Linked DNA regions of Homo sapiens: region 2 is linked to region 1. Evidence: fine-mapped expression QTL. Tissue or cell type: whole blood. Region 1 holds a variant in brackets; the other region holds the start of a gene. All regions are shown on one strand. Distances are between the middles of the regions.

Region 1 (13,310 bases):
GGATATACATTTCCATGCATTTTTATGACCAAACAGAAAACCGACCCCTGAGGGTGACATATTTACTATTCTCTACTACTAGGGGTGCTTCAAGGGAAGAGTTTTTGAAGCCCTGTGGTTTAAACAAAAAGAGAACATACCCCACCCCACCCTGAACAAACAGCAGCTGGGCAGATTTCATCTCACAAATGGAAATGGGAGCAAACAAATTTTTTCAAAGCGATTTTATAAAGAGTGGGCCTGTTTAGTTGGGTTTTTTGAGCCAGGATTAATATTACAAGCTGGGGAGCTCTGTGACATGGCTGTGTCGTTGGCTTTGCCATACCGCCTACCTCCTGGGGGAAGGCAGAGGAAAGTGCTGCTATTCAGAAGCAATTTTACTTCTGCCTCGGCCTTCTCACTTCTCACTGAAGTGATTTACAGCCAGCCTGGACCCAGTGCCCAAGCCTGAGCTGAGTTACATGTCATGTTGGAAAGATCTTCCCCAAATCAAGGTCTTATCTAGAGCTTGCCTGGGATATTTTTTCATTTCTAATTTATGTAACTTTCTAATATGTTTAGCATTTGCCCTTCCCTTGTCTCCATCCTGCTTATTAAGGTGAATTTGCATACAAATGGGACCTTGGTCTTCAGGACCATTCACCTGACACTTGATCCCACGAGGCGACCACTGTCTACTGTTGATACCATGAGGATGACCCACAGAAGTCATGTCTCTCTGCAAACTAGAGGCAAGGCCTTAATTAGAAGAAGCCTTGTGTGTTAAAATGATGGGGTGAATCAAATCAGCAAAGGCATTTAGCATTAACTTAGGAGGGCAGAATACTCCTTCCTGTTGAGTGGGTCGTCCTAGGTCACAACAATTTTAATTTGCCTTCGATAGATGGATCTTGAAGAAAGTGTACAAAAAGTATATTTGTGATGGTGTTGTTTGGGAGTACGTTTTGACTCAAAGAGTTAACTGTGACATTTTACTTTGGCTCCTGGTCTATTTTTTGCTTAACATCTACCTTTGAATGGGTAATAGTCATCTCTATAAATTACCTTCGAAAGATTGAACAATTGTGGAGAATCAGAGAAATGAGCCCCTTGCTATCACCCTGTTGCAGTCGGCTTTAATCCTCTGATCTCCTGGCGTTTCACCCTCTCACTGGCAGCCACCTTCCTTATTTACCCAAATCTTGTTAACTTGGGTAGGAATTCCCACTGAGAGGACAAATGTGGTCCCAGTTGACTGGTCGCTGAAAGTCTATTAGGTTGGAGAGTATTTATTTTCTACCCTAAAGGGTTTGAAACTTAGGGAAATTTTGATCAACAAGAAAATAACAGCTTTCAAGATTGTCCTGACAGTTAAGCTGTCTTAGCAGAGAATCACAGGATTTGATAGTCATGGAGATTAGTTCTCAAATTTCAATGAGAAAAGTTCATAGGAGATGGAGTGAGGAAAGAAAACTTGTGCTGATTTTGGTCAGGCTACCTTTGCTGGGGAAAAATTCATTCCATAAAATTATTTTAAAACGTAAATACTATTTAGCTTTATCTGGTGTAATACTTTGCATCTATAATTTTTTTGTTTTGTTTTGTTTTTGAGACAGAGTCTTGCTCTGTCACCCAGGCTGGAGTACAGTGGCATGATCTTGGCTCACTGCAACCTCTGCCTCCCAGGTTCAAGCGATTATCCTGCCTCAGCCTCCCAAGTAGCTGGGATTACAGGCACGTGCCACGGCACCCAGCTAATTTTTGTATTTTTAGTAGAGACAGGGTTTTGCCATGTTGGCCAGGATGGTCTTGAACTCCTGACCTCAGGTGATCTGCCCGCCTCGACCTCCCAAAGTGCTGGGATTACAGGCATGAGCCACAGCGCCCGGCCTGCATCTATAATTTGATTTAACCTTGCAACTTTATTAATTGAATATTATGATCACCATTTTATAGATGAGGAAATGGAGACTCCAAGGGTTTAATTACTTGCCCAAGAGTCTACAGCTATCTACCAACAAAACTGGGATTGGAGCCAGCTGTCTTACCATTACATCCCCGCTGCCTCCTAAAGCACAGCTCTAGTTCATACTAAATGTATTACATAGGCCGACTCATTTATCTTTACATGGGTCTCATGCATTACAAGAAGGGGGCCACTATTTTAACTCAATTCAAAAATGTTAAAATCAAAATTCCCAAAATGTACTTGGTTTATAATATATCATAAAATAAGTAATCTGACCAATTGAGCCTCCCAACTCGAAGACCAAGAACTTCTTTCTACTCCCAAACCATGCAGAAGGAAGCTGAGTTCCCCACTGGCCAATGCTGTCTAATTCTCTTAAATGATTCAGATGTAAAAGAGGAAATGGCATCCGTCTAATTAACACTGCCTGGTTAAATATAGCTGCCAAGGGACAGCCTTGGGACAGTGTTTACAGAATAGTCTTTCCAGCCCCTCAGGCCTCAAGTTACAGATGATAGCAAGCCTTCCCTCCTTATCAGCTGCAAACAGAGATGCCCCCAAAAGTGGTGTCAGGCCAGGATGATGAAAGGAGAAGGGAAAGGCTGCGGATGGCCTTCATTTCCTGCTCCTGGCATCTGGGGATTCCGAGAATGATCCCAGGACCTAGATCCTATAGATTCCGGCAGCTCTTCCTGCAAACACAAGCCCTTGTTGTGTGCCTGAGCCTTGCTCTCCGGCCTGGAGACATCCATCTGCCCACTCTCCTAGGAACTGCTGATTACCAGGAAGCACCATCGGCTCTGCTGCCCTCCCCCTGGCAGAGAGGCACAATGACCACATTATTTCTCTTCCAGCTTCACGTTACAGCATGGAAGCTGTTGCCAAGTTTGATTTCACTGCTTCAGGTGAGGATGAACTGAGCTTTCACACTGGAGATGTTTTGAAGGTAGGTGACCTGGGGCCCCAGGGGAGCAGTAGGGAGTTTCAGTTACTCAGTAATCTGACAGTCCCTGCCTTTGTCTCTTAAGAACTGCATGTGGTTCCTTTTAAAAAGAGAAGTTCACCTTGATTCCCTTTGTGCACCCTTATACCAGACACCAACCAGGCCGGGTGATGGAAATACAGTCGGCATAAGCCACCATCCTTGTCCTGGGAGGTTCGTAGTCTGGAGAGGGGAACACATCCACCCAAAGGGCTGTTACAGATGTTCTTGGCTAAGTTCTCAGGGAGCACAGGTGAGGGAACAAGTGATTCCATCTTGAAAGATGGGGGTTGTAGGAGTGTGTGCAATGTGAACGTCAGGAATGCACTGAAGGTGACTTGGGCTTTTAGCTAAAGCTCAGAGATGTGCAAGCCCATGCTGAATGCAGGGAGCAGCGCCAGGCTCAGCAGAGCTGGAACTCAGGAGGAGAGGTTGTGGGTGGAGACAGCTTGGGAAAGGCAGCCACAGAGGACATGGCTCAACAAAGGCCATGCACACCTGGCCACTCAGGGGCTTTTTAAAGCTTGTCCTCATCCTGCACTTGAGTTGTAGTGGCCACTTGCTGAGCTGAAGTGGCCTTGGACTTCTCCCACATTCATGCACCATACTTTCAGACTCTGCATCTTAGCCCTTGGGTTTTTGTTTTGTTTTGTTTGTTTGCAAAAGAGCATAAGCCCTTCAAAAGGGCATTTGGGAGTGTGTGGAGCCAGACCCCCTCTGCCTGACCTCAGAGCACCCTCAGATAGCCTGATCCCTGGTCCTCAGATAGCCTGATCCCTGGTCCTCAGATAGCCTGATCCCTGGTCCTCAGCAGTCCCAATGAGCCTTCTCGGACGCCCAGCAACACTGAGGCCATTAGTGTCTCACCACCGAGAATTAGGTTTGTTATACAAAGAACCTTGTCAGCATGTGAGAGGGTGACATTGAAAGTGTCTGAGGAGCACAAAACACCACAGAATGGCTTCTTTTGGAATATGAACATGCCCATTAGGTAGCCTTCTAACTGCTCTCAACTTTCAAGATCTAGTAACATAGTGGCAAAGCATAGGCCTTCACAAACTTAAAATATGAGTTGGGCCTCCTGACCCAGGAAAACCTGTCTGTCACTGCTTTGGGGTCTTACGAAGCTCCTGGAGGGACTTGCCAAGCAGCGAGAAGTTCCTGCCTTCTCTGTGGGGCACTGTGATCATGTGACTGTCATCCACTGGAGACCATCCTTGTACCAACTTCCACCCTCGTCTTCCATTACAAAGAGAACCTGGTATCTTAAGTTTTCTCTATTCCTCAGAAAAGGAAAAAGGAAAGAAAAAAAAAAAAAACTTTGCTCAACTCTGCTTCCCAATCCAGCTCCTGATTTCTTTCCTCCCCTTTGTTGCTAATACTGGGAAGAATTCTCTACACTGGGCGTGCTTCACTTCCTCACTTCCCACTCATTCCACAACTCTCTGGAATCTGCCTTTTACCCTCCCTGCAACATTCTCTTGAAGTTCACCAGTGATCTCCTTAATGTGTAGTATAATGACCCTATGGAAATGTCTGTGGGATTGACACTGCTAACTGGCCCTCTCCTGGAAGCCCCTTTCTCCCTGGCTTTGGCAGCACCACCCTCTCCGGGTTCTTCTCCTCCCTTCCTGACCACTCCTACAGGTCTCATTTCCAAGCATTCTTTTTCCTCTCTTGATCCTGAAATATACACTTCCCTGAAGGTGCTGCCTTTGGCTTTCTGATTTTTCTTCTCACTCTGAGCCACCTCATCCACTTCTTCAGCTGCAACTATCACCTCTGTGCCAAAGACCCTCAAGTCTGTGGCTCGTGTTCTAGCTCTGGCCTTGCTCTTGAACTCCAGACCCAGACTTCCAATTGTCTGCTGGATGTCCCCACATGAACTCCAGCCCCTAACTCAGGATGCCGAGAATCACTCAAACCCCCATGCCCATCTCACCCCCATTTCCACCCAAGCCACTCTTCTTTCCATGTTCTAATTATTATCCTAGGTCAGTCACAAGCTAGAAGCCCCAATTATCATCAATGCCTCCTTTACCAAATCCTGGTGACCAGTAACCAACGTCTCCTGAGCTCCTGTTCAGGGCCAGGATCTAGCTAAGTGGTTTGCAGGCATGATTTCATCATCTCAGCAAACCTGTGAGGTAGGCATTCATTTCCCCTCCATTTCATAGATGAGAAACTGAGGCTAGGGATTAAATCACATGTCCACAGTCACACAGCTAGCATGTGACCAATCCAGGACCTGGACAGAACTCTGTCTGACTCCTAAGCACTAAACTCTGCTCTGAATGTATTTTTTTCCTCATATCTCTCAAGCAAGTCTCTTCTTCACCAGAAAGGAGTGTGAGGCAGTAAAAAGGAGCATAGACTTTGAGTCAGATGGATCTGAGTTTGAATCCCAGCTTACTAACCATGGAGACTGGGGCCCAGTCATCTGCCCCCTTTGAGCTTTAGTGTCTTCCTCAGCAAGTGGAGGTAGTATCCATCTTGCCGGGTTGTGGAGAGGATTCGAGGTGATGACCCTGTCCCAACGTAGACGCCCAATAAATGGTGGCCCGCATTATCGGGATCATCCATCCCCGCTGCTTCTGACTGCTCAGATCATTGCCACAGCTCCTTGACTGACCTCATTACCTCTTGTCTTTTTCCTCCTTCACTCATTCTTCTTACTAGTCCCAGAGGGATCTTTCCAGACAAATCAGATCATATCATTTCCTTGCTCAAAAGCATTCAGGGGTTTCCAATTACCAATTGATTGAGACTGAAAACATCTGGCCCCAAACCACTGTCCAGTGTCATTATGCACATGTACACATGTGTGCACACACCCACACAGAGACATCTTTGTAGATGTAACGCCCCCAGGTTGCACTGCAATGTATACACCGCCCTTTCTCAGCCTCTCCCCTATATACTCTGATTGCCCCTCTCCTACACACACATACTTGACCTCCTCTACCATGGAAACCTCGCTGGTCCTCTCCACTCCCTACCATCCCAGGGAAACAAATCACTCCCTCTTCAGCTCCTCCCCAACATTTCACATAAACTTCACTCATTTCCAGGCACTTATGACTTTGCCTCACATGGCAGCTATTTATAGGCAGGCCATGACCCTGTGGTCTCATGCACCCTCTATTTCTACCTCTCATTGCTGCCTTTGCCCCGTGGGATCCTAATTGCTCGTTTATGTGTTGTCTACTCCACTAGCAAAAGCTGTGCAAGGGCAGGGGCTGTTTCTGCCTCAATGTCTAGAAGAGCTGTGCCTAGAACTCCCTGACACTTGACGAATGAATGAACTTTCAATTCCTCTCCATTCCCTGAGAGCAATGTCATGCACGTGTGCACACAATGCCAGGTTCGTCTTTGTGTCTTCACAGCATCTAACACAAGTCATGGCCCAAAATAGATGCCCAGTACATATTTCTTGAATTGCTAAATTGCATTTCTTCCTGTTCATTTAGAATTCCATTGGAAAGCCAACCCCCTCCCTCTTTTCAAATTCTGTCCATTGCAGGTAAAGAGCAAAATGGGGAGGGCTTGTTGACTGAGCCCCACAGAATGTCTACAGGATGGTGATTGGTTCCCATGGCTGGGACTCCCCACATGTGATTGCAATGTCTGCCCCCCACCTTCCTCAATGGGTAACACACCCAGGATCCTCACAAATACTTTCAAAGCCAGCTCCTGACTACCCCAGCAATTCGCTTCTGGGATTCTCTGACTTGTTTGGCCTTTTGTGCTAAAGACTAAACAGAGGTTTTCATTAGAAAGGTACAAAAAAGTCTGAGCAGCCACCCACCCTCAACAGACCATCAGTTTCCTGGGGCAGAGGCCCCAGCTTATTTATCTCCATATTTCATGCACCTAAGTGCAATCAGCAGGTGCTCACTAGATGGTGATCTACACGGCATGTAGATCAAGATGGTGGACAGGAAAACGCTGCCAAATGACTTGATCCTGCTTCTCCTATGACGGAAACATTTGGAAACTCAGGAATCAGATTTTTTTCCTATTCATGCCACAAACCACCATACCTGCAGCTACACACAGCACCAGCCTCACATTTGAATTTGCCATTAAATTTGCCAGTAGCTTTGAAAAATATCTCTTGACCCAGTCCATTTCTGTCTCCTTCTGTAATGCAGCTAATGCGACCTCATTTCTTCCTGCTAAAATAGCAACCTAAAAGCACTAAGAGTTAATTCCACATAATTCATTTCTTCAATACTTCAGATTTTTGCTATGTTTCTAAAAGCTACAATTTCATCCAATTTAAAAATTCTTCCAGCCGTAATTTGGCCCTTCTCTTCCCACGTCTAACTTATTCACAGGCCATGTAACCCAAAAAATCATCTCTTAGGGAACATTATAAGAATTAAGAAACAGTCAAGAGTAAAACTTCAAGTGTTCAGGCTGAACGCCTTGCTCAGGTTTACACGATGGGTACACGAGATAGGGGGAACCGAACAGATGGAGAGATGAGAAGAACAGGAAGTGTGGGGCCCTGGGCCCACAACGGCAGGAGGAAACCATCTCCCCTCCCCTCAAATACTTTTCTTTGCAGAAAATGAGAATTTTTTTT[A/T]AAAAAAAACCTCACCTTCTATACATGGTAAAGAGCCTGCAAATTCACCTCTCTAGAAACACAGTGTTAGGCAGACCAAGCACCAGGTGGCGGAGAGAAATGGCTGGCATTGTGGGATAATCTTTCAGTTTCTAGAGGAGGTCTGAGGCATGATAACTAAAATTACAGAGCTGCTTTCAGGTCAGAAAATGAAGTACAAAGTGTGTGGTTTTTTTTTTTTTTTTTTTCTTTTTGAGACAGAGTCTTGCTCTGTTGCCCAGGCTGGAGTGCAATGGCGCAATCTCGGCTCACTGCAACCTCCGCCTCCTGGGTTCAAGCAATTCTCGTGGCTCAGCCTCCCAAGTAGCTGAGATTACAGGCATGCACCACCATGCCTGGCTAATTTTTGTCTTTATGGTAGAGATCAGGTTTTGCCATGTTGGCCAGGCTGGTCTCAAACTCCTGACCTTAGGTGATCCACCCGCCTCAGCCTCCCAAAGTGCTGGGATTATAAGCGTGAGCCATGGCACCCGGCCTCAACGTGTGGTTCTTACGGTGACAAGGTAGTTTCCAAATGGCCTCTTTTACCCCTTTCTGTGTGACATTTGCTACCCTGGCCAAACACCACATTCCCATGTGACGGGAGAAAGGAATTCCAATGCCATGAATTCAGAAGCGATGGATGGAGTGCAGTGTGCTCTTGTGTTTTTACGTGGCTACGAGGCGCTGCTGCTGGGTTTCCTAGTTCTTTTGACCTAGATTTTCTGCTTCCTCCCTTGCCCCCTCAGCACACACATACCCACATGTCCTTAGTGACACCAGCAGTCACATTTGATGTTAGAAACTATAAAGTTTTCTGTTCTCAGCAATCTCAAACTCAAATATGGGACACACTTTTATTCCTTCAGAATAAATGACTAAATTCAAAACATACACACATAATGCTTTAAAGAACGTATAAACCCTTCCATGTCCTATTCAGAGCTGGAGGCCTCCCTCATAAGAATACCACATTTGATGGAATTGTATTTTTTGAAAAGAGTCTACACTTTCTGAAGGACTTTCAGGTACCAGGGCTCATTTGATCCTCACATCAGCTCTGTGAGGTGCTAGGTGGCTATTATTATCTCCATTTTTCAAATGGCTGATTGACTTGGCCAAGATCACATATCTAGTGATGGAGCCAAGCTAGAAACCAGGTCTTCTCGTTCCCAACTCACAACACTGTCCCCTTCCTTCCACCTTGGAGTGATGTTAGAAATAGGTCATCATCTCCACTCAAGCACTTAGTTCTTTCCATTATCTTCCCATCTTCTTTTCTGGGAGAAAGAAGCCCAAGGGCCCTGTGACTTCAACTCCACCCACTTTCTGATGACTCTGAAACCCCAAGCCCCAACCTTAGCCTCTCTCCTGGGTCCAGACTGACATATCCAGCTGCTCCCTGAGCTTTTCTTCTTAGTTGAAGAATTCAACTCACAGTCACCCGCATGCAATCTGAAGCCCATGAGCCCTTTCTCAGCCCTGCCTCCTCTCATGTATCTTCTATTTCTGTAAAGCCGTCACCACCTACTCAGTCTCCCAAGCCAGAAATCCAGTGGCATCCCAGAGTCCTCCTCTCCCTTAGCTTCCAAGATTGGTCAAGAAATCCTGCCTGTTTGCTTCCTGAATTTCTCTAAAATATATCCTCACCTCCTCTTAGCCTAGGCCCTATCATCTCTTGACTGGAGGCCTGCGCTCATCTTCCTGCAGTTTTTCTGCCGACTTTAGCCTTGCAATCTATCTTCACATTCTGATCTCTGATACAGAGCTCTGTCGCTCTCTCGCTCTCTCTTAATTAGAGACAGAGTCTCTCTCTGTTGTCCAGGCTGTAGTACAGTGGTACAATCAGAGCTCACTACAGCCTTTAACTCCTGGGCTCACACCCTCCTCCCGCTTCAGCCTCCTGAGTAGCTGGGACTACAGGTGCGCTTCCACCACGCCTTGCTAAGTTTTATTTTTATTTTCATAGAGACAAGGTCTCGCTTTGTTGCCCAGGCTGGTCTCAAACTCCTGGGCTCAAGCGATCGTCCACTTGGGCCTCCCAAAGTGCTGGGATTACAGGCATGAGCCATCGCACCCAGCCAGAGCTCTTTCTGAACTCTAATTCTTACTGTTACTTCCCTGCTCAAAATCCTTTAAGGGCTCCCCCTACATTTCAAGATATTCACAGTCTACATTCCAGCCACCTGGAGGCATTTCATTCCCAGAACACACCACACCTCCTCAGAGCTGAAGGAGGAAGTCCATTGCCATCTGACTTGGCCTCAGTAACTCCTTTCGTTGCCAAGGCAAGTGGTCTCTCCTCTACATATGGATGCCTTTTCTATCTATTTCTGCTTTCTTCTTTATCATCACACTTCTATCAGTTAAGATATTTTCAGGAGCAAGAAACATAAACTAAAAATGGCTTAAACAATAACAAAGACTTGTAATTTCTCAAAGTCCAGAAGTAGGAAGGCTCCTGGGTATCATCTAATTCAGCGGTTCAGTGACATTATCAGAGTTCTTTCCATCTTTTGCTCTGCTATCCTTATTTAGAATTATTGTTCTAGTCTATATCAAAGACTTAAAAAAAATTTTTTTTTTGAGAGAGGCTTGCTCTGTTGCCCAGGCTGGAGTCCAGTGGCAAGATCACGGTTCACTGCAACCTTGCCTCCTGGGTTCAAGCAATTCTCCTGCCTCAGCCTCCCGAGTAGCTGGGATTACAGGCATGTGCCACCAGGCCCGGCTCCTTTTTGTATTTTTAGTAGAGATGGCATTTCACCATGATGGACAGGCTGGTCTCGAACTCCTGGCCTCAAGTGATCTATGTGCCTTGGCCTCTCAAAGTGCTGGGATTACAGGCGCGAGCCACCACACCTGGCCTCAGACTTTCAAAACATTCTCAGTGGCGGTGTCAAATATTTTGTCTTTTAATGGTGAATCTCATTTTTTGAGAAACCAGAAGCCACATACAGTCAAGTCTGGTGAGTAATATGAGTAACTGAGGTAGACAATAACATTTGGGGTCACAGTCAAAGTCAGGCCACAGAGTAACAAGACAGAACTTTTGGTTTTGTTTGGGATCTGGCTTTAAAAGCAAGTTTAGAAAAGGCATCCCAAGTATCTTGGGTTCCAGCCAAATATCTGTGAAATACACAGCATGTGAACACAAAGAGTTACTGTTTCCAAAGCTGGCCCCACTGGGATGTTTAAGTTTTAATCTGCCTGTTTAAAAAACAATAACAAATTGAATTTTTGAAAAGTTTCCTGGGCCTGGTGGCTCACGCCTGTAATCCCAGCACTTTGGGAGGCCAAGGCAGGTGGATCACTAGGTCAAAGGATCAAGACAGTCCCGGCCAATATGGTAAAACCCCGTCTCTCCTAAAAATATGAAAAATTAGCCAGGTGTAGTGGCGCATGCCTGTAATCCCAGCTACTCAGGAGGCTGAGGCAGGGGGATCGCTTGAACCCAGGAGGTGGAGGTTGCAGTGAGCTGAGATCCCGCCACTGCACTCCAGCCTGGCGACAGAGCAAGACTCTGTCTCAAAAAAACGAAAAACAACAACAAAAAAAAGAGAAAAGTTTCCTGGTTACCTGGAAGAGAAAAAAAAAAATACACCGTGGAGTAACCATTCTTCCTTCTCACCATCTGCTGAGATGAGGAACTTAAGGTGCTAACTGGGACAAATGAATTTCCAAAATAGAAAAAGGGATTCAGGGAAGTCCTTGAGTGCTGAATTTGGGAGGCCAAGCCACAGTGGGGTGACATGAGTGGACGGCACAAGTGGACAGAAATAACCTGGGGTCAGGAGAAGCTGACTCCAAAGGTAAACCCACGGCTCCTCCACAGGCCTGGGGTAAATCCTAGAACAGCTGTTGAGTTCTTTCAACTTATTAACATATTTTCCTCTAAGTCCAAAAGGGCCTTCTTTGCCTGGCAGCCCCTTTCTCTTGTTTTTTTGGTGTCCTCCCTCCAATGTCTTTGTCTTTCCTTTTCTTCCATGTAGATTTTAAGTAACCAAGAGGAGTGGTTTAAGGCGGAGCTTGGGAGCCAGGAAGGATATGTGCCCAAGAATTTCATAGACATCCAGTTTCCCAAGTAAGTATCTGCAGCCTGCTGAGATGGGCCTAGCCACACACACTCCTCTTACATTTCCAGCAGTCACTACAGTTATCCATGGGAACCCAAGACATTGTCAAAAATGGCTGCCTCTGGAGCTCTCTCCGGAGAGCCTCCAGAGCATGCAGCTGAAGGCCAGGGCAGGAGGGAGACTTTGCATTTCATTTCATTCCCTTTTGATGTTTACACCATGTGCATGTATTGCTATTTTAAGTTGTTCTTAACTTTTTTTTTTTTTTTTTGGGAGTTGGGGTCTCCCTCTGTCACCCAGGCTGGAGTGCGGTGACTCCATCACCACTCACTGCAGCCTAAAACTCCTGGGCTCAAGCCATCCTCTCACCTCAGCCTCCCAAGTAGCTGGGATTACAGGCACATGCCACCACGCCAGGCTAGTTTTTGTATTTTTAGTAGAGACAGGGTTTTACCATGTTGGCCAGGCTGGTCCCAAACTCCTGACCTCAAGTGATCTGCCGCCTCAGCCTCCCAAAGTGCTGGGATTACAGGCGTGAACCACCATGCCTGGCCTATTTTAAGTTTTGGGTTTTTTTGGGTTTTTTTATTCATGTGTTTATTTGTTTTGAGACAGAACCTTGCTCTGTTGCCCAGGCTGGAGTGCAGTGGCATGATCTCGGCTCATTGCAATTCTCCTGCCTCAGCCTCCCTAGTAGCTGGGATTACAGGTGCATGCCACCACACCCAGCTAACTTTTGTATTTTTAGTAGAGATGGGGTTTCACCATGATGGACAGGCTGGTCTCAAACTCTTGACCTCAGGTGATCCACCCGCCTCGGCCTCCCAAAGTGCTGGGATTACAGGTGTGAGCCACTGCACCCGGCCTATTTTAAGTTTTTATAAAATGAGTTTGTAAACTCAAATTATCTATAGTGATTTCAATCACGGCGTTCCCCAGAATTCCAAAGGGGACGCTATTGGCCACCCCACTTCGGGAGCTGCTCTCCTAAGCGCTTCTCTGTGACCTCCTAATCCTAACCATCCTCACCAGGCTCTCACCCTTCACTCAGTGGGTGGACAGACACTCCCTGCCTTCAGTAAAGCATGCTCACCCCAATGAGAGAAGTCAGCGGGGGGAAGGGGAAATTCTCTTCCTAAAGAGGAAATGAAAAATTGAGATTGGGCTTCGTTTGTCTCAAGAATTGACCACAAGGGTTAGATAGAAATCTAATCTTGCCTCAGAACCAGGGTCTAGCTCAAAGAGCAAAAGCTTGTTAGAAAACCACAGTAGTATTGGTGACTCCAGCAAGGTGCAAGAGCACCAGTCTTGGTAAACCTGAACTGACCACCAAACCAAGAGAATGACCACTGACCTTGACGGAACCCTTGATGCTGCCCAGGAATCTGCTAGGTGACCTCTGCATACCCCACGTGCTCCTCAAACCTTCAGCCCCTCCGTGCATCACTCTTAGCCCGTGACCTTGATTCCAGGTTCTCTGGAACAATGAAAGCCACCAGAAGTGAAGCTCCCAGACCCCCCTCCCCCACCGCATCCACCTGCCTCCTGCAAGTGTGCTCAAACAGTCGGCCTTTCCTGCAGCTGGCTGGAAGGAACTGTCACTGCTTCTAGCAGAAATTCTCCTCTCTCTCTCTTCCACGTCAACCTCCTTTCCCTCTCTGCTGGATCATTCCTGTCAGCAAACACACACGCTGCAAT
Region 2 (16,477 bases), 50 kb before region 1:
AATCTTTTCCAGCCCTAAGTGTGTGTTCATTAATTTATTCAACTAATAATCTTCCAGAGCTTACCATGTGGCAGGCTCCATTCTAGGAAATGGAGAAACAGGTGCACAAGACACAGTCCTCACACCCTGGAGTAAACAGCTACTCTTCATTGAACGCTCACAATGTGCTCACACCTGGGCCTTCACATGCCTCATCTCTCTCCTTTAATTAGGATTCAAAGCCATGATTTGAGGTCCTGCTTTGCCATTTCCTAACTAAGACTTAACAACTTCTCTAAGTCTCAGTTCCCTCATCCGCAACACAAAGAATAATCGCCAGACAGGGCCGTGGGGGAGGAAGAAACGAGATGCTTTGGAAAGAATTTTGAAAATGGCGGGTGGAGGCTGAGCAAGAATCAACTTTCTGTGGGCAGGGCCTTTCCTCGGCATCCTCGTCTTCATTCATACAACCCCCACTTCAGATGACGACTGTGTACCAGATGAGCCAGGTGCTGGGCGTTCGGCCACACAGAGAATCAGACCAGCAATTACCCTAGGAGAACCGGCAGTGGAGGGGAAGGCTGGACCTCAGGAAAGCCTCTAGAAGGAGAGAGGGACGTGATGGCGTCACGTCACGCCACAGGGATTTCACCTCCTGCGGATGGTAATGGCCTCGCCGCCCTCCCGCCCCCACCTGGACTCCGACGGTGCCGGCAAGAAACGGGAGGAGGGAAGGCAACCGATGTTTCCAGACCCGCCTTGAGCCCCACCACCACTCCCAAGCAGAGGCTGTTACCTGAGAGGAAAGTCGGCCGCTGCCCAACGACCAAACTTCCTCTCCCCAGGATATTCCACCTACTCCAGCCAGGCTCAAGGGCCCAGGCCGGTCCCCACTTCCGCTTCCTCACTTTCTGGCCTGGTGCAGTTCCTGTCAGGGCGTCAAGCAAGATGGTTGCAGATACCTGAGCTGGAGGGTACCAAGGGGAATGAAGGTAAGTGTCTTCGTTTCACAGGCTGCCGGGCTGTGACACTGCCCTAATCCTCCTTTCAAAGAATAAATTTTTTTTTTTTTTTGAGATCTGGGAAATAGTTTAATCAGACACTAGCATTTATTCTTAGCTGCTTTCTTAATTAAATAAAAATGAGTATAAATTAATTTACTAAATGTTCACAACGTAAAAACGGACATTAAAAAAAGAAAAAAAATGCCAAGGTAAGCTGATAATGTTTTTAAAAAGTAGACAATAAAATAATGTATGTAACTTAAAATTTGCCATGATAATTTATTCTTAAAATGGAAAATCAGTAAAATACTCAGACTTCTAGCATAATATCTCTTTTTTTTTATTTATTATTATTTAAGTTTTAAGGACATGGATGAAATTGGAAATCATCATTCTCAGTAAACTATCGCAAGAACAAAAAACCAAACACCGCATATTCTCACTCATAGGTGGGAATTGAACAATGAGAACACATGGACACAGGAAGGGGAACATCACACTCTGGGGACTGTTGTGGGGTGGGGGGAGGGGGGAGGGATAGCATTGGGAGATATACCTAATGCTAGATGACGAGTTAGTGGGTGCAGCGCACCAGCATGGCACATGAATACATTTTTAAAAGTGTGTTACTACTGTCATTTCAACTGACTAGAAATACCACCAGCACGTGATTGCCACCTCAAAGGACTGAGAATGTAATAGTAGTCTATGAAGAGCAGTGTGTGTGATGGACAATGATGGGGTAGCTCCAGTGACTGATGGCTTCAGGTGCCACTGACGGGTAATTGTTGATGTATTCAACTGATTTTCCGTGAGCACCCACTTTGTGCCAGACAGTAAGGACTCGGAGATAAAAAGCAGCCCTCTGCTGGATACGTTTACAGGCTAGTGGAGGTGACAGGCACCGTCAGAGAAGATTGTAACAAGATATGTATGGCATAGTAAGAGAGAAGAGATCATCTAATTCTGCCACTGAGTATTTAAGGGCAGGTTTCACAGAAGAGTTTACATCTGAATTGAATCTTAAAGGATGACAGGGAGTTCACTGGATAGACAAAGTAGAGGAGGACGTAAGAGGCAAAGGACACATCATGTGTAAAGGCATGAAAGCTGAGCCAGCCTATTATCTTGGAAAAACTACATGTACTGTAGTTACTACAACTGTCACAAAGGCTATTAGTGGAGCAGCAGAGGAAGGTTAAATAACAGAGGGAAGTTGGATCATGAAGAACCTTATCCATACTACAAGGTGATTTTATCCAGTAGGCATTGAAAAATGTAATCGAACCTGTGTTTTAATGGAATATTGACTAGGATGAGGGGAAAAGACAGAGGATAACAAAACACTTAGTAGACAAAAGCAACATTTGTTTCTATCTCCTACTACTTCAGTCATAATTATAATAATAATAGCCCACATTATTGATACTGACATGTAGATAGGTGAATCCAATATAAAATGATAGGAGGTATGAAAGAAGTTGGTGAGTTTGGAATATTATTTGACTGGCTATAATATAGAGTAATGGGGTGGGAGCCAGAGGGAAATCGAAAAGGTGACCTGGAAAACATTGTTCAGGGCCTTGAATGCTATGTTGAGGTATTTTGACTTTATAAAATAGTGGGGGACAAACTACAAGTATTTTATACATTGAGGTATAGTTTATGAAGTTTTTTTATATGTATAGCTTATGTAAATCTCAAAGGAATGCTGAGAAGTAGGCGTTATTATCCCATTGTACAGGTGAGAAAGCTGAGTTTGTGGAATATGCATACATTCTACATTATTGAGCACCTGCTATTTGCCAAGCACTATGCTGAGCTATGAGACTAGAAGGAAGTTGTAGTTTAATACTCTAATAGAGGAAACAGGAATAAATCAGCAATTGTAAGTAGTTGCTATAATAAAGGCAAACAATGTTACGGGAGTGAAAGGGGGACTTGTCTATATTTGCATAGTCAGGGAAGGCTTCCTGGAGGAGGTGAGCTTAAACTGAGTTTGGAGAAACAAATAGATTACAGTAATTGCCCAGAGATATTTAACTAGGAAGCAGTTTACCTGAAACTTGAACCCAAATCTCCTGTGTCTAGCTCTTTCCCCTACTCCAAGGACCAATCTTTGGTCCTTGATTTTAAGCTCTATCAGCAACTCAGTCACAAGTGGACTTGTTATGTTTGGAGAAGGTCAGAGATTCCAATTTTTTATTTTTAAATTCATTCATTTTCTCCTTTTAAAATCTCTGTGTGTGCTCAAAGAGTAGATTGGAAGCAGAGGAACTGGAAGAAGAACAGAATGTTCTGATAGTTCAGGCAATAAGTGATGAAGGCCATAACTAAGGCAGAGGTCATGGGCATAGTGTGAATCTCCACTCTGTTCACTCTCCTCACACATATACTTTTACATGTAATGTTAAAGTGTAGCAGTTATGGGATCGGGCTCTGAATATATGTGGCAATGAGAGAGAAGGAGGAGTCTACAGGGACTAAGTTTCTTTTTGGGGTGACCAAGTAAATGACTGTTGCTGTTCACCAAGATGAACATGATCCGAGGGGTCAGTTTGGCAGGAAAGCTGGGGAATTCTGCTTCGGACATTTTGAATCTGAGCAACAGGTGGGAGATGTTCAGGGGACAGTTGAATAGAGATAACTGAAAGAAGAGGGTTTGGGGCTAGGTTCATAGACTTCAGAGTAGTCAGCATATAGAAGGTGATTGAGGAGGCAGATGGGAAGTAGGAGACAGGGTAAGATTAAAGACTGAAGTCCCAATAAACAGTGAGGGAGTTGGTTAGGCTTGGCAAAAGTGTCAAGTGTTACCAGCTTAGTGGAATTAACCCTGTTCAAGTGACAATATGTAAGGGGTCCTTCTTATCTGCTTTCCTCCATTTGGGGGCACAATTTAGTTGCAATACCGTAACATCCACTAAATACAAATATTGCTCTATGGTAGCTTGGTTGGTTTTCTCCTTTAATTTTTTGAACTTGAGGTTCTATAAAAGTGAACACAGTTTGCTTCACCTGACTTCCCGGACACCATTTCTCCTTCTCATCTCCTTGACTCATCCGTTCTCAATTCTATGACCTCTCAACTTTGAAGGAGCCCATTCTCTAACCTCTTGTCTTCTCTATCTATATTCACTCCACAGGTAGTGTTATCCACTTGCAAAGCGGTAAATACTCTTCGATTCTGACAACTCTCAAGGTTTTCTCTTCAGCTTCTCCTGACCTCCAAACTCGTGTATCTAACTACCTTGACCTCTACTCCTGGTCTTGCCTTCCAAACCTTCTCTCCCACGGTCTCTCCTGTCTCAGTAAATGACACATCCTTGCTTCTAGGTTCTCAGGCCATGAACCTGGGAGTCACCTTAACTCCTGTGTTTGTCTCTTATAGCTCTCATGATATCCATGAGCTTACCTTTGAAATACAAGGTGGCTACCCAGTCTAGATAATAAATGATTTATTGATGCTACATTCTAATACAAGATACAATAACATTATCTATGTTTCTAGACTTTATGATCACCCTGTATATTCAAAATCCAACCACTTCCCACCACTCACATCATCCTGTTTTAAGCCACAACCATCTCTGGTCTGGACTATGAAAGTAGCCTCTTTTTTTTTTTTTTTTTTTTTGAGATGGAGTTTTGCTCTTATTGCCCAGGCTGGAGTGCAATGGCGCAATCTCGGCTCACTGCAACCTCCGCCTCCCGGGTTCAAGCGATTCTTCTGCCTCAGCCTCCCTAGTAGCTGGGATTACAGGCATGCGCCACCATGCCTGGCTAATTTTGTATTTTTAGTAGAAATTGGGTTTCTCCATGTTGATCAGGATGGTCTCAAACTCCCGACCTCAGGTGATCCATCCGCCTCAGTCTCCCAAAGTGCTGGGATTACAGGCATGAGCCAACCATGCCTGGCCAACAGTAGGCTCCTAACTGGTCTCTCTTCTTCTGTTCTTGCTCCCTTGCTATCTAATTTCAGCACAACAGCCAGAGCTACCCTTTTAAAACTTAAAACCCAAGTCAGATCATACTACTCCCCAGTTCAAAATCTTCCATTGGCTTCCATCTCACTCAGAGTAAAATCCAAAGGCCTCGCCATGGCAACAAGGCCCTACATGTTCTGCTCTCTCTCTGATCTCCATCCCAACTCCTCTCCACCTCACTCACAGTGTTAAACATGTCTCCACCTGAAGTCTTTGCACTTGCTAGTCCCTATACCTGCAAAAGCTATTTCCCCAGATGTCCATCCAGGAAGTACTGGCTTCTTCACTTTGTTCTAGACTTTGCTCAAATGTCCTTTGATTTCCCAACGTAAAATCGCAACCCCCATCTCAGCCACACTCCCTGTGGCTCTTGCATCATTTTATTTTTCTCCCTAACAGTAGGACCATCTGATGTACCTTCTGTTTCTCCCTTTACCAGAATGTAAGATCCAGGAGGGCAGAGATTATGTTTTGTTCACTGATAGTTTTCCAGCACCTAGAACAGGACTAACACAGAGTAGGTGTTCAAACTTTATTTATTGAATAAATGAAACGAGAATGTCTGAATGCACACTATTAAATAAGAAGTACATATTTTACCATAAAGTTAAATTGAGCATAATTATGGCAAGAAGTTCAGATATTGGCCAGGCGCAGTGGCTCATGCCTGTAATCCCAGCACTTTGGGGGGCCAAGGTGGGCAGATCACCTGAGGTCAGGAGTTCGAGACCAGCCTGACCAACATGGCGAAACCTCAGCTGTCCTAAAAATATACAAATTAGCTGGGTGTGGTGGCAGGTGCCTGCAATCCCAGCTACTCGGGAGGCTGAGGCAGGAGAATCATTTGAACTTAGGAGGTGGAGGTTGCAGTGAGCCAAGATTGCGTCACTGTACTCTAGCCTGGGCAACCGAGCGAGACTCAGTCTCCAAAAAACAAAATAAAACAAAAAACAAAACAAAACAGAAGTTCAGATATAAACAAATGACCCCTCAAAAGGAATTGATTAAAAAAATTTTAAACAAAGTATGGTTTAAAAAAGAAACTTCTCCACTGTGGCTAAGTCCATATTTCACATGTTACTGTATCCTCCTCATCTTGCTGCTATTTTTCTGAGTATCTCATGATAGTGAGTACTGAAATGCTGGCATTCTCACATTAGGGTCTTTATTCTTAGGATCTGCCTTTGCACTCGTTCAGTTACAGAGCTGTTATGAAATAAACCACTCAAGTGGCCTTGCTTCCCTCCCACTATGCTCTACATAACATGTCTGTCAATCAGTACTTACTACCAAAATAACTTGCCTTTGAGATTTTTCTGTTCTGCAATCTGTCCCATGCTTGTAAGGGGAAGGATTATATTCTGCTCCCTGGGGAGTAGTGCCTGGTGCAAAATTAGCTTCCTCATTAGGGTACAAGCTGAAAACACCATGATACTTTCCATGTAACACCATTCAACATTTTCCCTTCGCTCCCACTCCCCAACCATAGAATTTTAGGGACTCCTTTAACCATTTCAAAACCATCGACTTGGGAGCTATCAAAGAATAAGGACTGTAGCCAGAGGATTTCAGCATTTAAAAACTTGGCAATAGAGCTGTTCAGTGTAATGATCCAAGAAGGTCCTTAGAAGGCTGAATAATTCTGAGGTCAAGGTTGAGACGTTATTATTTTTAAAGTAGCAAGATGTTGTTATTTTTAAATTTTATCTTTATAATGTGGAAATAGCAGAGATCCTTTTCAGATATAACCAGGATTTAAGAAAATTTGACAAAGTTGCATTAATAAAAAGAAAGCCTGTTATTAAGGAGCTACAGGGCCGGGTGCGGTGGCTCATGCCTGTAATCCCAGCACTTTGGGAGGTTGAGGCGGGCGGATCATCTGAGTTCAGGAGTTCAAGACCAGCCTGGCCGACATGGTGAAACCCCATCTCTACTAAAAATACAAAAAAAATTAGCCAGGCATGGTGGCAGGTACCTGTAATCCCAGCTACTTGGGAGGCTGAAGCAAGAGAATCACTTGTACTCGGGAGACGGAGGTTGCAGTGAGCCAAGATCATGCCATTGCACTCCAGCCTGGGCAAGAAGAGTGAAACTCCGTCTCAAAAAAAAAAAGGAGTTATGGATAGAAAATTACTTCCTTTAACTCATTCGACAAATATTTACTGAGCATTTTCTGTCACCTTGACACTTTGCTGATTCTTCTTTTCTATTTCAATAAAAATGTTGGGCAATTATAACCAAGGAAAAGGTTTTAAGAAAGTAAATTTTAAGCAAGGTTTAGATATAAAGAAGCAAAGAGATGGAAAAGGATGCCGTTTCACATTGCAGAAAAAGTTTAAATTTTAGAACCCCAAATTGAATCTCTCCTTGACACTCTCCTCTTGGTATTCCAGGGATTAATGCTAGGAACATCCCAGTGAGCCAACATTTCCCTCCTCATCTTGGATCCAGTCCCCAAACTCTGAATGGTGCCACTTAGCAAGTAGCAATGTCTCTAATTTTCTGTAAAAGATGCAACGTTGGCAATCCATTTTCTAGCAAGAGCAAAGAGAAAGGAAGAGGCCTTCACAAGTTGCAGTTGATATAGGGGGAAGGGTGAGTGGTACATTTAAAGGTAAGAACTAAGGAAGTTGAAGGTAACAAAACTCAAGGTCAATGGAAAGTCTTAAATCCCAGAAAGCCTTCAGTCTAAGACTCAACAGAAATTGAAGTCCCAGAAATTGAAGGAACTGGTTCCACCTCATGCTGGACTGTGGCAAACCTGGGGTGAGAATGCATCCCAGCTCAGAATGTTTCTTCTTTTTTTGTCAAGAGTAATATTAGAGGCTGAGTGTATGAACAAAGCATCTTTCCTGGGATTTTAACATTGTGAGTGATCGAGGGTGCTCTTAAATAAGTTCCCCCAAGAAGCCCTAATGTTCCTCTGGATGCATGATTATACTAAGAGAATAAGAGTTTTCCTTAAGATCAGCTTGCTGATGGACCATATCAAGAACTATAAATTTTCTTATGTGAACACAAGTGTTCAGGGGGGATATTGTTAAAACTGAAACCAAGCATAAAGAAGCAAAAGTGTTTCAGTGAACCTCCTGCATTTTAGTTCAACTCTGGCAGCAAGAAAACAAAACCACATAATCTAAGGCTCACGCCCAACTCTCCGAAGCCCCATATGTGCTAGTTCCTGTGTGGTTTGCCTACAGACTGCAGGGCTGACTAGGGTTAGTTTGGAGGAGGGAGTAAGAGGTGGGGAGGAGGAGGCACAGTTAATGGATCTGTAAACTTGCACCCTCTTTCAGAGTGGTACATGGAAGACAGCACAAAGTGGATCCATACTCTGAAATGCAGTAACTCTGATGCTTGAATTTGTCTCCCTTCTTGCCAGAAAGGATTCTAATAACTCGGTGTCAAAGCCAAGACATAAACTCAACCCCTTCTCTTCCAAAAGGTATGTCATTATACAACATCTGTACATATACTCTAGAAACTTTGAACAGTTTTATAATTTGCAGAATGTTCTGTATGAGTTAATTAAAATGAATCTCACTAGTTCTCTAAATATTGCTTTTAAGTCCCATCAGCTAAGGTCTCTAAACCTTTTGCTGTGACAATGTTTGTGGTGATGGGATTTGACTTCTATCAAATGAACTGGGAGAACACTTGTTCCTTACCCAGTCCATAACACAAAAATCTCCACAAACTGGCTTCAGAAGCATCTCAGGGAAAGATTTTCGACCTTGGGATCATGGAGGTAAAATTCCACTTCACCATGGTCAGAATTTAATCCAAATTGGAAGGGATTGGAGGGGGTGGTAGAGGGCTGAGCAGTGATGAATGAACACTAGCACTCTGAGGTCAGGATTTCTCTCTTTGCTTGAATTTCTAGTTCTGTTCGCATTTTTGTTACCTGTACAAAGGACACCAGTTTTCATTCCTTTACGAAAAGAAAACTTTATGTTGAAGTGTATTTTGGAAGGGTATTGTCTCTCTTCGTACTAGCCGTTAGGCTCCATCCCTATGACTGTCTCTGGTTTAGGCGTCCAGTCTGAAGATAGCTGCTTTGTGTTCTTTGTCCCAACTCTTCCTGAACGTGAGGATTGAACATACCAACCAAAGGTTTCACTAATTTAAAATGTACTGTATTGCCCTGACAGGTATACTGTCAAAAAAAATTTACCGTATTTATCTACCTGGAATTAGGCCTTCTTAATAAAGTGTATGCAGCATAATTTGCACACTATTGAACATACACATCCCTAGATAAACTAGGAGTGGGAAGTGTTTTAGATCTAAACATCCAATGGGAAAAATTTCGTGTGTTCTCGTTATGTTATCTGAGGATGGGAAACTTCAGGTCGCAGAATCTTTTGTTCTATGCAGCAATGTTTGTCATAAACGGTTTAGTTCTTTAGTGGCTCCTTTTTGTTTCTTATTTTTGGTTTCGGAAAGAGTATTTAGCAGAAGTTACTCTCCTTTAACAATCCAGTATTTTATGTAAAACTTTATAGAATAATTTTATAGTGATTCTCTTTACAAAACCATCTGCTATTAAATAAGGAACACTGTGTAAATAGAGGACCACCTAAGTATATTTAATTTTCAAATACGAAAAAAATCTGACTCATACCCTTTTTTGTTTTTTTGTAAAAGAGAGGTGGCCCTATATTATTGAATAAAACTGCTTTTTTAGATTGAACTTGGAGTGTCTCCCATGTGGTAAACTGAAATCTTATTCTCCCCAAATTGTAATAGATTTTATCTTTTTAAAAATGACTTTACTGAAGCAGAGGAGAAGGAGATGATCAATCTATTCAATATGAAGAAATATCTCTGTTGCTAATACAATATCCTTTTGAATATCTCCCACATCTTAGGCCCTGGTGAAAATCCCTTTCAATTGTTCTGTCTACCTCGTAGGGATGTTGTAAGAATAAATGAGTTAACATAGATATGAAGTGCCTTAGGAAAAAGGCTCTATAAAAATGCAAGGCGATATCATGATTAGTTGTTTCTTTGACTCTTGATCATTTTCTTCCCACTTCTTATACAAAATGTCTCTCACTTATTTCCTGAAGCCATCTCTTTTAGAACTATTGCTTCCTAGAAGAGCTGAAAATGATCCTAGTTCCAACATATTTATTGATTCCCAGATAATAACACCCACTGGTGTTGATGACTGACAGGGTTCATGCCTAAGCTTGAGTAGAACTTGCCCTTTTTTCCTGGGTCAAGAAAAGTCTGCAATTGTTCGAAAATGTGTCAGTAAGTGTGATTCCATCACGATTTCTTAAATAAGTAACAGTTGCTGCTGGATAATCCTGGGGGCAGATGATTCATTTTTGTGCCCCTATCAAACAAACTCAAAACTTGTTAAAGAATCTTTATAAGTTGTTTGAATCAAACAATAGGGTCGCTAGGTCCCCATTTTGTCCATTTGAGGTATTTGCCCAGCATACCTTGGTCTGTAAAGAAATAGCACAGCCTTGGCTGGGCGCGGTGGCTCATGCTTATAATCCTAGCACTTTGGGAGGCCGAGGTGGGCAGATCTCCAAAAATAAATAATAATAATGATAATAACACAGCCTCATGAGTCTTTTTTTTTTTTTTTTTTTTGAGACAGGGTCTCACTCTGTCACTCAGGCTGGAGTACAGTGGCACAATCACAGCTCACTGCAGCCTCAACTACCCTGGGTTTAGTGATCCTCCCACCTCAGCCTCTCAAGTAGCTGAGACTACAGGTACACACCACCACACCTGGCTAATATTGTATTTTTAGTAGAGACAGGGTTTTGCCATGTTTCCCAGGCTGGTCTTGAACTCCTGAACTCAAGCGATTCGCCTGCCTCAGCCTCCCAAAGTGTTGGGATTACAGGTGTGAACCACTACACCTGGCCTGCCCTTTCTTTTCTCTTAAAAATTCTTAAGAAAGCATGGTCCTGTTTAACAAATAAGCATTTTACAAACATTTATCGATCAATTACTATATGCCAGGCCTGGCACTAGGCACCAAGTCCTCTTCAACAGTGTTAACATTAAGTTTCAATAAACTTGAGTCAGTAGGAATTCAGTAAATAATTTTTAAAGATTGTTTTCTTTTTAAATATGTATTTATAAACAAAAATTTTAGAGAATTAAAAGAAACTATCACGAAGTGCATGATGATAAAAGTCTTATATACTCTCCAAAGAAAATGTTAAGACATACCTTAAGGAGATAGTGAAGAACAGCCGGGCACAGTGGCTCACACCTGTAATCCCAGCACTTGGGCGGCCAAAGCAGGCAGATCATCTGAGGTCAGGAGTTGGAGACAAGCCTGGCCAACATGTTGAAACCCTGTCTCTACCAAAATACAAAAATTAGCCGGGCATGATGGCAGGCGCCTGTAATCCCAGCTACTTGGGAGACTGAGGCACGAGAATTGCTTGAACCCGGGAGGCAGATGTTTCAGCGAGCTGAGATCGTGCCACTGCACTCCAGCCTGGTCGACAGAGCAAGATCCTGTCTCAAAAAGAGGAAAAAAGAAAAGAAAAGAAAAGATAGTGAGAAAATAACTGAACATAAAACATAAAGAAAAGTTGAAATATTAGTACTCACTACCTAGGTTCAACAATTGCTAACTCTTTGCCGTATTTGCTCCATCTATACCTATTTCTTTCTGAATTACTTGTAAGTTGCAGATAAAATAATACTTCACTCCTAAATAATTCAGTACTCATCTAAGAATAAAGGCATTCCTCTATCTAACCACAATTCCATCATTAGGCCTAAGAGGATAAACAGTAAGTCCTTAATATCATCTGATAGCTAGTGCAGATTTAACCTTCCCCATTTGTCCCCCAAATGTCTTCTATACCATTTTTTAAAAAAAGAATCTAATTTTTAAAAATAAGAACATATTTTGCAGTTGGGTCTCATGCTTCTTTCTTCAACATTGGATGTTTTTAAAGATTACGCCAGTTCTCTTGTACCAGGTCCCACTTTCTGAATTCGTTGTTGCCTCATGGTTAATTTGTTCCTCTACCCACTTTATTTCTCATAAGCTCCAAGTTAGGACTAAAAGCATGATTTGATTTTGATTGAACGTTTTTTGCAAGGTGCCACTGGGTGCTCCATATTGCATCTTATCAGGAGGTACAGAATGCCAGGTTGTTCCACTGTGCATGATGCCAAGTTTGATCAGGGCTTGAGGTAGTGATCTTGCTCAGAGGATCTCTTGTTGTACAGGCACTTTTTCACCCTTTGCAATTAGCGAGTACTCTCAGGGGGTATCTCAAAGTGTATCTCATAAACACTTTGGCATGGTGGCAATATCCTATTTCCCAACAAACTCTCACCCGGTGACTTTAGGTAATAATCTTTGCCTAAATTGATTATTTCATTGGAGTTCATATATATTTTTAATACGCTTTGAAGATGGACTCGACATGCAAATTCATCATTATCAGCAGCAATAGTGGCTGGAAATATTTATTGAGTGCATAAGTTCAGGTAATAATAATAATAGTAGGTAATGTTTATTGAGTGCTTGCTGTGGAGCCAAGACAGCCTCGGTGTGAGCCCAGTCTTTCACTTACTAAGCGAATGAACTGGGACGAGTTATTCTTTTTGTGCTTCAGTTTCTTAAGCTATAAAATGGGATTACTAATGGTGCCTATCTCGTGGGATTGTTCTGAAGAGTAAACGATTTATACATTTAAGGTTCCTAAAACAGTGCCTGTTATTATTGTTATTTGCCAAGCATTGTTCTAATACTTTGTAGGTACTAACTCGTCTACTTCTTCTAATGGTGCAATGAAGAAAGTGCTAATAATACCCTTTTTTCACAATGAGGAAACTGAGGTACGGAGAGGTCTAGTACGTTGCACAAGGTCACTTAACTAGTACCTGGTGGAGCCAGGATTTGAACCCAGGCTGTCTGGTTCCTGAGCACTCTCTCTGATGATGGGCACATGCAGTGAGGAGTGATACAAGTGGAGCTGAGTGGAAGTAGCCCTCACACACACTCAGACTTGAAGTTATTGAAAATCCGGGAGGTTGCCACCCAAACACATTTAAGGTTTAATTCATCTGAATAAGAACAGCATTCCACTAAGCCCAGATAAGTACTCTTATTACATTTACATAGCTTAAGGCTCTGTACAAGAAACCTTGAACATAAAATACTTGGAACAGAAAAGAGTAGGAGAACTATGAAGTAATGGGGGGAAAAAATCCCTGAAAGGAACAATACAAGCGGGGAGTTATGAGACCTGGGACCTCAGAGCCTCGGGGTGGAAGATGATATTTTGATATAATCAGGAGGGAGAAATTTCCTCTCATTTTTCACATTTCTGTACTATATAAGATTTTACCATAAAACGCAAGAGTATAAGCCATTGTCAGATTTATAAAAGGCCATGGTGGATTTCCTTAAGAGACGATGGATGACTGTTGTTAGTAGGTAAATTCCCTGGTTGGTTATCTCATACACTCAGATATTCCATAAGTCAGCCTGTGGCTTCTGAAACTGTATTGAGAAAAAGCTGTATAAACTAGGTGTTGGTCCATGCTCCTTCATTAGCATTACAAAAGGGTTCGACTGCTGAGTTGAATCTTATCCACTCCTTCAGTGGCCATTACAGAAAGCTCTCAAGTGTAATTTTCTAAAGAGAACTAAAAATAAATAAGAAAAAAAAAATCCAGCATTAATAATGGTTCTTTTTGCATTTCCAACACAGTCATTGCCAAATTGGTTCTGCCTTTTTATGTTTTTTAATGAAAAGCAGCCTAATTGATCAATTGGTCATGAATAATACTTCTTCGTTTGTTTTTCTCCACACCCCCCAGCCTTCTAGAACCACGGGCTTAATGTGTCGGCCTACAAATGGTTCATGATTTGTGTTTTTTGTCTAGTGCTTTATGGGAAAATATTAGAAACAAACTGCTGAGAACTCAGTAGGAACTCAGTAAATAATAAGTAGATAGTTCTCTTGTTAAATATGATTTTAAAGAAACTCTTTCTAAATAACTAGGAAATATTACAAGGGAAGTACAAAGTGGGGTGGAAAGCCTGGCTGACTTGTAATTTGAAATTTCTCTTCATCATTTTATAGGTCACACAGTTTAACCCTTTATAAAACAAAATGTAAAGTCTGATAGCTGAAAAGGCTCTCCTCCGCTAAATAGATTTGTTTGAAAATATAGATCATTAAATCGGTAAGAATAACAGGAGAATCTCAACCAAACATTGAGACAACTAAGAAAATTGTCTAAATCTAATACCTTATATCAGTACTTTAAGTTGACCATAAATACGCTGATATCCATAGCACATAGGTTCTTACTGGCAGTGGTGGGGTGGGTGGGGGAAGGGGAGTGTCACAGACACATTCAAGATGTCAACGAAAACTATGAAAACTCTCCCCAATGGGGAAAAAAAACCAACGATGCCTAGCACTTATCCTACGCAACTTTGTACAGAATTTCCGTGGGAAATTCTGGTGTCCATCCATCATAAATCACCTGGTGTCCACCCATATATCCTGAATAGGAAAAATTGTCTTTCTCTAGAGTTATTGTACACTGATCCTGATGGAGCTTTAAAAAGAGTTGTCGTACAGGCTCATTGACTTTGGGAGGACAAGGTGGGAGGATTGCTTGAGCGCAGGAGATTGAGACCAGCCTGGGCAACATGGTGAGGCCCCATCTCTACAAGATATTCTTTTAAAAAATTAGCCAGGCCCAGTGGCCCGCACCTGTAGTCCAAGTTACTCCAGAGGCTGAGGCAGGAGGATCCCTTGAGCCCAAGAGATCAAGGCTGCAGTAAGCCGTGTTCACACCGCTACACTCCAGCCTGGGCAACAGAGTGAGATCCTGTCTCAAAAAATAAATAAGTAAATAAAAAGAGTTGCCATTATCTTGTTTGATCTGGCTATGATCTTTGAGGTAGACAGACCACAGATTTTACCTCTCATTCTGCAGAGTGGGAAAAGCAAGGCTTGGAGAGTTTCCGGGACTTGCTCAAGGTAATTTGCTAATGTCTGCCGGGACGTAGCACCAAGCCTGTCACGCTGTAGGCTGGGCCCCTTCCACAACACTGGTCCAAACACAGGATTCTGGAGATGCAGGAGCCCTCGATGGGCTTCTGGAAAGCTGAATTCTGGCTCTACCAGAGCTACCCACGTGATCTTAAACAAGTCACCTAACTTCCCTGAGCTTCAGTTTCTTCCTTAGTCAAGTGAGAGGTTAGACTGTGTGTTCTCTGAAGCCCTTTGATTTTCTGCAGAAAACCACCTAATCCCACTGGGTCTGGGAACAGAGGGAAATGACCTTTTCTGCCATAGATGGCAAGACCCTTCACCCTTCCCTGTAGGGCATAAGAGCTGGCATCCAATTCTTAACGGATTCCCTTGCAATGTCCAAATCCCATTAGAAACTACAAACATCTCAATAGTGCCTTTGTGGGCTGCTTGGGTGTCATGCCGCTGGCTGCCTCACTTGCTGCAGGGCTGACTGTCCACATCAATTATACTCCAACCCTGTGCTCTGCAATGGGCAGACATCCCATGAGATTTTATTACCCCTCTTGGGTAGTTCAGGGAGTCATATGGAAGTAAATAATGCTGATGGGCTTATTTTGGGCTGATAGATCCTTATCCTTCTAAAGAGGTTATGCCTTTCAAAGGGTACAAAACCTTCTCCTTGATTTTTTATTACGAACAGTTATATCCTTTAATGTCCCAGAATTGTTCTTGGAAGTTGGAGACTCACAAGAGGGCCTGCAGCTGTGAATGCAGAAGTCCTGAGACTAGGGGAGGACATCACCACTCTCCCTTGGCCTTTGGAGTCATCCAAGCTAAGTGCTAATATTTGTGATTAACAGGTGTTGATAGGAAATTGGGCCCCTGTGTCTCAGTCTTTTTGTGCTTCAAATTTTCTAAGTGAACTTCAGGCTGGCAAGTGGAGTTAGATCAACTTGTTGCAGACAGTATCATCTGCTCGGTACCGTGTCAGGTCACTGGACTGTGGGAGGTTATACTGACCAGTGATGAGAGTGACAGAGCATGAGCTTGGCTCCCGTATCCTGTGTTCTGTGCTCAGCCTCACAGATGACTCACTGTGCCTCATCGACTCCTCTGTCCTCGAGTGAAATTATGCCATTCTTTAACCCACTATACAAGAGACTTTTGAAGATTCATGTGTGGCTACCCCCAACAATATCTCATTTGTACAATGCAGAACATGGTGCTTTCTTGTGTAAACAAACTCATTTTGTGGAATTTTTATTTTCTAGATCAATATTTTTAAATAGACTACTAATTCATTTTATAAACCGGGTACTATAAGATTTTATGAGTTGACACTTGGTACCCTGTAAGTATCCAAATAATCAAAGAAGGAGAAAGTGTGAAGTCAAGGAATCCCCTAGCTGAAAAGAAATTCCCAATACCTGGAACAAAAAAGATGGAGCTTTTAGAGAGCAGACTTTTTCTCCAGCAAAGATCCACAACTTCCATTTTTAAATGTAAGACGTAA

The links.
Region 2: it holds the start of GRAP2, and the variant in region 1 is fine-mapped to the expression of GRAP2 in whole blood (TOPMed, PIP above 0.99).

What each region holds. Positions count from the first base shown.
Region 1 is chr22:39,944,291-39,957,600 of GRCh38, forward strand. GRAP2 (GRB2 related adaptor protein 2) reads left to right here. Exons shown (of 8, transcript NM_004810.4): 2 at 2,803-2,894; 3 at 11,529-11,620. The coding sequence starts at 2,817. Among named protein-coding and RNA genes, the nearest start is that of TMA7B, 9.5 kb to the right of the region's middle. RefSeq lists enhancers at 6,357-6,596, 7,361-7,530, 12,901-12,960 and a silencer at 7,631-7,690. The variant A/T (reference allele first, on the strand shown) is at 7,522.
Region 2 is chr22:39,892,920-39,909,396 of GRCh38, forward strand. It overlaps GRAP2 (GRB2 related adaptor protein 2), which reads left to right and starts at 8,165. Exons shown (of 8, transcript NM_004810.4): 1 at 8,165-8,411. It overlaps ENTHD1 (ENTH domain containing 1), which reads right to left and starts at 841. Exons shown (of 7, transcript NM_152512.4): 1 at 776-841.